3 linked regions of the Homo sapiens genome follow. The protein of the gene in region 1 purifies or fractionates together with the protein of each later gene. This does not show direct contact. Each region holds a gene or a part of one and is shown on either strand. Other genes may lie near its edges. The genes, in order: HSPBP1, HSF2 and DNAJC13.

What was found.
Region 2: the proteins of HSPBP1 (region 1) and HSF2 purify together in Homo sapiens (affinity purification with mass spectrometry; 2 studies listed by BioGRID and IntAct, with this or other methods). This does not show direct contact.
Region 3: the proteins of HSPBP1 (region 1) and DNAJC13 purify together in Homo sapiens (affinity purification with mass spectrometry; 2 studies listed by BioGRID and IntAct, with this or other methods). This does not show direct contact.

Annotation. Positions count from the first base shown.
Region 1 is NC_000019.10:55,273,458-55,277,110, forward strand, and holds part of HSPBP1 (hsp70-binding protein 1), read right to left. Parts: intron 1,166-3,653; coding exon 941-1,165; intron 1-940. UniProt on the Homo sapiens protein: Inhibits HSPA1A chaperone activity by changing the conformation of the ATP-binding domain of HSPA1A and interfering with ATP binding. Interferes with ubiquitination mediated by STUB1 and inhibits chaperone-assisted degradation of immature CFTR.
Region 2 is NC_000006.12:122,406,041-122,409,693, reverse strand, and holds part of HSF2 (heat shock factor protein 2), read right to left. Parts: intron 1-3,653. UniProt on the Homo sapiens protein: DNA-binding protein that specifically binds heat shock promoter elements (HSE) and activates transcription. In higher eukaryotes, HSF is unable to bind to the HSE unless the cells are heat shocked.
Region 3 is NC_000003.12:132,423,854-132,427,506, reverse strand, and holds part of DNAJC13 (dnaJ homolog subfamily C member 13), read right to left. Parts: intron 1-3,653.

The sequences.
Region 1 (3,653 bases):
GGCTCTGTGTGTCCTCTCCAGACCCCCTGGCCCGATCCCTCCCGTGTGGAGGAGACACAGTGGGCCCAACTTCAGCAGGTGTGCATAAGGATTCAGCGAGTCAACACCTGGCATGGAGAAACTGCCCCACAGATGTTGGTTTTTGTCCCGTCCCTGTGCCCGACCTGGTGCCTGTGTCCCAGGCGGCAGTATTTGGGGGAGTCCTGGCCAGCTCTGCCCTATGGAGCTGCAGAAACCTGGCCGTGTCCCTCTGCCCACACCTCAGTTTCTTCCCCTGTCAAATGAGGATGCAAACGGTCCCTACTTCACAGGCCATTAGGATAAAAAGAATTTGTGGCTGGACATGGTGGATCACACCTGTAACCTCAACACTTTCAGAGGCCAAGGCGGGAGGATCCCTTGAGGCTAGGAGTTCAAGACTAGCCTGGGTAGCAAAGCAAGTCTTGTCTCTATATAGGTTAAATGAAAAAAAAAAGAAGAAGAAGAATTCATGTACAGCAGGGGTTCTGACCAAGGGGCTTTCTACATCTAGGGGCATTTGTGCGCTGGCAGGTGGGGTGATAGTGTCTCTCCATGGCCTGGAGGCCACCCACCAGATGCTGCTCAATGTCCTGTAGTGCACAGGACGGCCCCCGAGAGAGTGAACCAGCGCCAGTGTGAACAGTGCCCAGCTGAAAAACTGCTGTGTGCAAAGCGCTCACGCTGAGGGCCAGGTGGTCTCCCCGGGAAGTGGTCACATCTGCTGCCTGGCTAGCAGGGGGTTTGGCCGAGTGCGCCACTCACTCTGCCCGCAGCACTCAGCCGTGCAGGGGTCCAACAAGCATGGGAACAAACGAGGGAAGGAGATGCCTCTCCCTCTGCCCCAGCAGATCCCGGGGGCCCACCCGGCACCCCCCCCCACCGCCAGCACCCCTGTCCCCAGCCCCACCCGGACACTCACAGGAGATGGCGAAGAGGGCCTTGACGCGCACCGTGTCGCAGGCGTCGCGGTCCAGCAGCCGCAGCAGCTTACGCAGGGCACCCAGGCCCAGCACCTGCTCCTGGATGGCTGCCACGTTCTGACTGCACGTGCCGATGAGCTGTGCCGCCCGCCACCGCAGTCCCGCAGCCCCCGCCTCCAGGTACCGGCCCACCAGCAGGTGCATGCCAGACAGCTGGCAGAAGTCTGTGCCACAGAGGGGAGCAGAGAGAGGCCAGATGTTAGGGACTGAACCGTGCCCCCCAAAATGCATGGGTTGATGTTCTGACCCCCAGTACCTTGGAATGTGACTGTTTTTGGAGATGGGATCTTTAAAGAGATCATTAAGGTAAAATGAGGTCCTTAGGGTGGGCCCTAATGCAATCTGACTGGCGTCCTGATAAGAAGAAGAGATGAGGACACAGACACCCACAGAGGGACAACATGGAGGGAGGACACAAAAAATGCCTTCTGCAAGCCAAGGAGAGGGGGGCTCAGGAGAAACCAGCCCTGCCCACACCCTGATCTCAAACTTCTAGCCTCCAGAGCCGTGAGAAAATACATTTCTGTTTTTAAAGCCAGTAGTCTGTGGTGCTTGGCTAAGGTGGCCCTAAGCTGACCACTACAGCTGCTGAGGCCGGGAGAGCCAGGCCGGCTCCCACAGGGACGCAGCTCTCTCCAAACACCCAACCAGAGGTCCCCCCAAGGCTAGTACAACTCGATTCCATCAGCATTTGGGGCATTAGGGCCCCAGGCTCCAGACTACTAAATGCCAGGACTGATCCTGGTCTTTGTGACAATCTGAATGTCCCCAGGGTCAGCAAACCACAGCCCACCTCCTGTTTTTGTAAATAAAGTGGTATTGGAGAGCGTGGCAGTTCCTAAAAAAATGAAATACAGATTCCCCGTGACCCAGCAATTCCGCACCAAGGCACAGACCCAAAAGAACCAGAAGTAGGGACTCAGATACTTATATACTCAAGTTCATGGCAGCATCATTCATAAATGACCCAAATGTCCTTAAAGGATAAAGGGATAAATATAAACTGCTCTAGCCATACAACGGAGTATTACTCAGCCATAAAAAGGAATGAAGCAGCTGGGCGTGGTGGCTCAAGCCTATAATCCCAGCACTTTGGGAGGCCAGGGTGGGCAGATCACTTGAGGCCAGGAGTTCGAGACCAGCCCAGGTAACATAGCAAAACAGGGTTTTTGCTATGTTATATACTAAAAATACAAAAATGCCAGGCCTGGCCAGGTGCGGTGGCTCATGACTGTAATCCCAACACTTTGGGAGGCCAAGGTGGGTGGATCACGAGGTCAGGAATTCAAGACCAGCCTGGCCAACATGGTGAAACCTCATCTCTACTAAAAATACAAAAATTAGCTGGGCATGGTGGTGGGCGCCTATAAGCCCAGCTACTCAGAAGGGCAAGGCAGGAGAATCGTTTGAACCCGGGAGGCACAGGTTGCAGTGAGCTGAGATCGCGCCATTGCACTCTAGCCTGGGCAACAGGGTGAGACTCTGTCTCAGAAAAAAAAAAAAAAAAAATTTGCCAGGCCTGATGACATGCACCTGTAATCCCAGCTGTTTGGGAGGCTAAGGTATGAGAATCACTGAAACCCAGCAGGTGGAAGTTGCAGTGAGCTGAGATTGCACCACTGCACTCCAGCCTGGGAGACTGACTCAAAAAAAAAAAAAAAAAAAAAAGGAATAAAGCTCTGACACACGCCACAACATGGGCACGCCGCCTTTAGCACAATCAGCCAGACACAAAAGGTCACGTTATAATCATCTATATGAAATGTCCAGAACAGGCAAATTCATACAGCCAAAACGCTGATTAGTGGTTGCCAGGGGACCGGGGGAGGGCCGGCCTAATGGGTGCTGGGTCTCCTTTGCAGGCAATGGAAAAGTTCTGGAAATAGAGGTGGTGTTGCACAACATTCTGAATTGACTGTAAGTGGTATAAACAGTCATATGGGAGGATGTTCCCCTCAGCCCACCTTCATCAGCACTGTGCATCTTCATTAAGACAGAGAAGATACACATATATATTTATATTTATATACACAGAGAGCGCACGAGGCCAGGGAGGAAGTGGTATCTTTGGCTTTCGTTCTCATTTGATTACTAATAAGGTGTAAAATTGCTGCTGCTGTGATGATTGGACACTCAGCACAGTGCTTAGCACACAGCAGCTGCTCAACAGATATTTCCTGAACAAGCAAAAAATGAATGAAAGAGCAAAGTCGTTAAAAGCCATCCTGCGGATTGGAGCAGGAGTTCTCTGCCCGGATAAGACGGGGAGACACTGGGGAAAGGTAAGCTAGAGGGTGGCGGCTGCACTGCAGGTCTTCTCGGGGTGCTGCATGCGCTCACAGAGGAGGGCTTCCCAAACTCCGTCCAGCCCCTGTCCAAAATGAAGACACCTGACTCCCAGGCCTGACACGTTACGTTTACTCTGTGCCTGGTGTTGTGCGGGCCTGGGGGTTTCTCTCGGCCCAGCCTGCGTACAAGAGGAAGTAATCAGGACCTGCCCAAACCAGACTGCCATGTAGCAGCACAGCCTGAACTATGAACCAAGGAAGTGACACCCCAAATCCACACCCTCAATTGCTACACCACCCAACCCCTCCAAATGGAAGTGAGCTCTCCTCAAACCTTCTGTGAGCTCTGCTGCTTGGAGTAAAA
Region 2 (3,653 bases), on another chromosome or scaffold:
AATTTAGAAGAGACCCAGACTCATAAATGAAGAATGTAGAGCAAAACAAATAATGATTTTCCCTTATTAGATTAAATTTACAACCCTTGACAATAACCAGTATTGGCAACTAGGTAATTATCAAAATTAAAATGCTTAAAATGCATACGTCTTTTCCTATCTTAAAAGAACTTTCCCTCTTATACCTTCTTTTTCAATCTACCCATCTGTCTTTTCCTTAACTGCAAAATTTAACAAGCAGGTATTTTAAACCCCCCTTCTCCAATTCAGGACCATCCACTTACTCTCACTGAAAACTGCTTTTGGTTCCCTCACTCGACTGAAACCAGATTTCTAAAATGTCAAATATCAAATTCAATGCCCTCTTTTCAGTCCTGATCTTCCTACACCTCTCTGTGGCATTTCATTTGGTACAACTAACAATCTCCTCCTTAAATGTTCGACTCTCTGGGCTTTGATGCTAAACACTGTTGAGTCTCTTATCTCTTATATTTCCTTTCAATTTTCTTCCACCTATCAAATAAGAGGTAGCTGTATTTTCCAGGTTTTTATCCTTAATCGTGGCACCATTCATATTCTTTCCTTAGAATTCATCCACAGTAGGGTATCTTATTATTGACTTTATTTTATAATAAACACATCTACAGCTCTGTCCCTGATCATCTCAAATTACACACTTCAATTTAAAATGTTAACATTTTTTACACTATGTTCTTTAACTCAGTATGTTCTAAACCCATTTCCTGTTTCCCCGGAAGTCAATCTTTTCTTGTGTCTTCCATTCTACCAAGTCCCTTCCTCACTAAGTCACCCGACAACATTTGATGTCAAAAAAAAAAAAAAAATGAAGTTAAAAACTCTCATTCTAACAGCTAGTAAGGGGGAAACATTAAAACATTCCCTTTAAAAATTAAGAACAAAGCCAGAATGCCATGATAATTGCTTCTACTCACTCTTAGTTACTGCCAAAAGAAAAACGGAAGGCATAAAGGTCTGAAAGGAAGAAAATAAATGTCAATCACAGATACTATGGGTGTACTCAGAAAACTGAAATCAGTAAAATGATTTGCTCACTGATTTATTATCAATATACAAAAATTACTTGTATTTCTAATTACCAGCAACAGCTAGAAATCTATTTTTAAGTCAAGAACACCATTTACAACATATATAAGATATCCAGGAAGAAAATGAACAAAGATCCACAAGGCCTAATAGCAAACATAAATCAACAAAATGAATTTAGAAATATGCCTTGTCATGAGAATACACAACACAGAGATATCGATTTTCCCTAATCTGATTTATATAGTTTTGATCCAATTGCAGCAAAAATCCAAAAGGCTTTTTTTTTTTTTATGGAACTTGATTTTAAAACATATGTGGAAGAGCTAAAGACCAAAAATACTTAAGGCACTCCTGAAGGATAGATTACCCTACCAAAAGACTTTTTCTGAAGCTACAGTAATTAAGACAGCAGAAGACAGGCACAGGATAAATTGTCCAATGGAATGGCATAAAGACTCCAGAAACAAAACCACTGAATGTTTGTGTCCCCCAAAATTCTATGTTGAAACCCTTGCCCCTGATATGATGGTATTTGGAGTTAGAGCCTTTGGGAGGTAATTAGGTTCAGAGGAGGTAATGAAGATAGGACCCCCCAGGTTAGGTTGGTGTCCTTATAAGATAAGAGAGACCAGAACACACTCTCTCTCTCTCTCTCTCTCTCTCTGCCATTGGGAAGACACAGAGAGAAGGCAGCTGTCTGCAAAGCAGAGAAAGCTCTAACACAGGAACTGAAATGGCCACTGCCTTCATCTTGGACTTCTCCACCTCCAGAACTGTAAAAAATAAACGCCTGTTGTTGAAGCCACCTGGTCTATGATATCTTGCTACGGCAGCCCAACTGATTAAGACAATATCTACACGTACTTGTGACGTAAGATAGAAGTGGCAATATAGATCATTGGAAAAGGAAGAACTACTCAGTAAAGGTGCTAGACAACTAAAATGTAAAAAGCCACAAACTGGAAGATATGGCCAAAACATAAACTCGAATATGTAGAATATATAGGAATTCTCACAAATAATAAAAAAAAAAACAGAAAAATGGCAAAACAAACATTTCACAGAACAGGAAACACAAATGGCCAACGAACGTGAAAAGGTTTTAGAACTCATTAATAATCAAGAAAATATAAATCAAAACCTCATTGAGACAATGCTTTACATCAATTAGATTGGTAAAAAGTAAGAACGATAACTAATACACAGTTTTGAAGAGGCAGATTAACAGAAAATCTCATACATGGCTAATAGCGGAATAAGCTGGTGTGATCTCTTTGGAAGATAATTCACACTATCTTGAGGTTAGACATTTCATATCCTATATCCCAGCAAGTCACATGAGTGTACAGACCTTAGAGAAACTCTTGCTTATATACACCAGGAGAGATATACAAGAATATTCCTAACAGCATGTGACACAGTTGATCTCTTTCCTGAGCCATTTTCTTTCATTAACTTCTGTGGGTTCACTCCCTTGATTTTCCTTCTTTTTCACTGTTCCGTCTCAGCCTCCTTTGCTGGCTTTTGTCTTCATACTCTCTAAATGTTGGAATAATACATCTTTTGGTTCCTTCTATCTTCACAGAAGATGATTTCATTAAGTCTCCTGGCTTTACCAGTTACAAGGTCTAAACTCCACCCTGAATGCCAAAGTCTTATACTCAACCACCTATTCAACATTTCCACTTGGACATTTTGGAGTGTGGAAGTCAGTCAAGCTGTTCAAAAATACTCCTGTTTTTTTTTCTAGCACTGCACTTCCTCATCCCTTTTGAAATTAGGTGTGGCCATATGACTAGGCATGGTCAAATTTAAGAAAAATTAAACAATTTTCAAGTTGTTTCAAATACTACTAGAGATCCATTTTTAATCTCAAAGTTAATATGCCAAAAAGAATCTCTAACATCTTTCCTCAGCAAATGGATTTATCCTGTAGTTCAAACCAAATTTATGAATCATTTTTAATTGTCGTTCCTCCAACCATAGCCAATTTATCAATTTATCAGCAAATCCTGCAGCTTTGCCTTCAAAGATTTCAAAGCTACATCTCAATACCTTGACTGCTGCTACCTTAGTCTCAGCCATCAATATTTTCAATACCATACAGGAAAACTGTGATAGTCTTCTAACTGGTCCCCTCATTTCCAATCTTCTTACTATAGATCTAGGGCCCTATACCATCTGCTCCTGCCTACCTCCCTACTCTCACTCTCCTAATTCCCTAAAGATATTCTAATCACATGGGCCTTCCTGCTTCCTTGAACAGCCACATTCAAGGCCTTACCTTTTGTCATTCCCCTTTGGCCCATCTTTTCTAATCATTTAGATCTCTCCTCAAACATCGTCTCCTTGGAGAGGCTTTCCTCATCACCTTACCTAAAATATTCACAAATCCTAGTCTGTTTATGGGCCAGTTATCAATTTATTGCTCCAAATTCATTCTTCATTGTCTGCTCTACAAGCATAGAGCTTGGTTCCTTAAATAAATATCTTTCTTTTTCTAGGTGCCATGATGTTAAGTTCTGTCAGCAGGGGATAAAAGAGAGATATTACAAGAAAAAGGAGCTCTTGTTCCTGACTCATGT
Region 3 (3,653 bases), on another chromosome or scaffold:
TTACTGTCATTATTATTTTATTGTTACAATTTATGTTTCCCATAAAACGTTTTTAAAAAGAAAAAAATATTGCCGGGTGCGATGGCTCACGCCTGTAGTCCCAGCACTTTGGGAGGCCAATGCAGGCAGATCGCTTGAGTCCAGGAGTTCAAGACCAGCCCAGGCAACATGGCAAAACCCTGTCTCTACTAAAAATACAAAAAATTAGCTGGGTGTCATGGCACAGGCCTATAGTCCCAGCTACTTGGGGGGCTGAGGTCAGAGGACCACTTGAGCCTGGGAGGCTGAGGCTGCAGTGAGCGAGCCCTCATCTTGCCACTGCACTCGAGCCTGGGAGACAGAGTCAGACCCTGTCTCAAAAAAAAAAAAAAAATATATATATATATACACACACACACACGTGCACACACACACACACACACACACACACATATGTATATATAAACACCAAGATAATCAGGATAGATGAAATTTTTAAAAATCATCTTGTCAACTATAACCCAACACTTAAGCTTGTCTTTTATTTCAACTTTATTCCTACAAAATACTATTACAAGTCAATCTTATTTACTACATTTTTAATATTCCCCACTTAGGTATTTGAAATTTCAGTTGTTAGAACTGTTTCCTTACATGTATCCAACCTAATATTTTTAAATTTATGTTTGATGGCTACAAATTAACTATGGCTTGAGAAACTTTCAAGAAAAAAAAAACTTCACAAAATAAATTTAATCTGCAGTCAATATTTCCTCTGTACATTAATAAGCTCTAAAAGTGATTCAAAAAAATCATCACTTATAGGCAAAAACTCTTAAGCAACCATTGATTTCCACTATTTATGATGAAAAAAATCTGTAAAATTTCTAGTATCAGAAGCTCAAGTATCAAGCAGGTAATATCAGTAACAGTCAAATATAAGCACATGCTATCAACAACCACAAACTGTCCAACTAAAAAATGTAAACAGTTAAATGGGATCTTGAATGAGATCTTGGTAGCAGCTGTATCACTAGCATTTGCCATTCTGCCAGTTGTTTAGAGGCTATTCGAAATAGCAGGAATTTATCTGCTCAAACTAACGTCACTTAAATTTCATCTCCTTCATTCCTGCAATTGTGTTCCATATTTCAAATTCTCAAAGACCCATGATTCTTTCTGATGAGGAAAAATCAAATTTACATGCCTTTTGTAATTAAATTGCATTGAAAGCATCTCCAATTTTTGCGAGTCAGCTTCACTTGTTTTCATGCTATATCCTAAATTACACCACCAAAGAAACTTCTGTTTGTTCTTTTTATAGAACTGTCCTATGGGTTAAAAAGTCAAATTCAGGGCAACACAGGCATTTTGGCTAGATTCACCTCTCTCAATGAATACTACTGCATCATGCTTTCGAACAACACAATATTCTTGCATTCTCTAATTTATTACTGGCAGTAATACTGGCAAACCATTTAAGATCATTTATGGTTAAAATGAGAATGATCTTTTAGAAGACACATAATTTTGACAGAAAACCACAGGATTTGGGAGTCCAGTGAGAAGAAGCCTACATCAAGTTGACACTAAGAACAAAAGCAAGATGAAGGGACTCAACACCACAGACACTCAAGCCAATTACGGTCAAGCTATAAGCAAAAAAATTTACACACACAGCAAAATTAAGTATATACACATGGCTTGTGTTAAGCAAAAACACAAGCAGAACACTCATTTAACTAGGGATGAATGAATACACTTAGAAAAAAATACACTAGTGAAAGAAGGATTGGCATTAATCAGGCTAGTCACCTGTTTAAAGCACGTATTTAGCATCATCAACTGGAAGTAATTTTTACACAAATATGACAACTTGCAGAGAACAGGTAAGCTACTGATTTTCCCATTTTGAGTCTGTAAAATGCAAGAACGGAACTTACTTTCATTAGCTCTGCCCTCAATAACTAAAAATGTGAATTTGTTTTGAAATGCATAAAAAATAAGATGGATTGATGGAAAGATGGACAGATCTGTGATAAAGCAAGTACAGTAAAATGTTAATGTAAAAACCTTTAGGTGGGCATGTGGGTATCTAATGTAAAGTTCTTTCAACCTGGCTGTAGGTGAAAATGTTTACAATATGTTGGGTGAAAATTGTGGAGTTTGCCTTTTCTGATCAAACTCTCCTACAACAGAAACAATGCTACATTCCAAAACCACACTTAAAATGTAGCAGACATTCACATCATAGGAACTAATTTATGAACGTAATACTTCCTACAGCTATATCTTACCAAAAAGGGAGGGGTAGTAAGGAGAACCATGGAAAGACTAACCCTTTGAAAAAATAACTAATAAGAGTAATAGATAGAATATCTTATATTGGCTTCTTGAGGATCTAGGTTTGTTTGTAACTGGATTCAAAATCTGAGTAAATCATAGCACTAGATTAGTTTGGTTTCAAACAAATGGTAAAAAATATGAATGGCTAACAGAATGTTCATTTTTACCCAGATTAAATAGCTACAACTAAACTGTTTAGATAGAATGTGCTGTGTATGGGGGAAACTGCCATATGAACTTTAACCCTATTTTTAAATTTTAGCTTCATTTTAATATATGACTCAAGTACAGGTAAAAGCATTTTCTTCTAAATGAACAACAAATCAGTATGTGTAATATGTATGATACCAACAGGAATCTTAAAACAAACCATAAATACATCACAAAGATTTTAGTACCTACCATCTTAGCCTTCCTTAACTTACTGAAGAACCCGATACCTCCAGAGATAGATGTCGTTGAAGAATAAAAAAAGCCAGCGGTAATATCAAATTTCATCTGATAATCATATCTTCAAATAATTGCCCAGATATTTTAAAGTGAAGTGATTGTACTGTCACATCATAATCAACTTTTAACTAGTTTCACTACCATAGGGTAGCTGAAATAATATGAGATCTCCACCATTGTTTTTAAAAACTTGATTCCTTTCTATTACAAACTGAGTATATATTAATGAAATACAGGGCAAGAAAAATTCAAAAGCAACCCCTAAATCTGAAGAAACACTTAATGGGAGGAGGGGACAAGCATACTTACCATAGCAGTTACTTTTTTTGACCTCTTCTATTCAACAGTATAAATCAAGTATTGAAAAGAGACCTGTCTCTTCTATTTCTATCACATGTATGCTCATTTCATCTGAGGGGAATAATTTGTATTTCTGACAAAACAGAAGTTTATCTGTTGTTAAAAAAATTCAAATTTTCTGTGAAAGATGTATTACTATGACCCTTCCCTTTCCAAAGCTTAAAAATGCCTTAAAATACTCACCTGAAAGCTTTCTTTCCAGAAACATGTTCACTTAAGCAATGCTTTGAAATCATTGCTATTGATCATTTACATATTTTTAGTTTATACACATTATTGTAACTTTATAGACCTAATTTCTATTTCATTTTATCTTTGAAGCATAACCTGGCTTATGCAAGAACAAACTATACTATTTCTGTAAGGTCTTCAGCTTATCAACTTATTAAGCTTATCAGCTTATTAAGGCACTTAATAATCATGCTCTACTATGGTAAACAGGCCCTGAAATGGGCAAAAGAAATTTTTAGCAGCCATATTTTAACTTGTTGCTGTTTTTCCTATCATTACAGTAAATG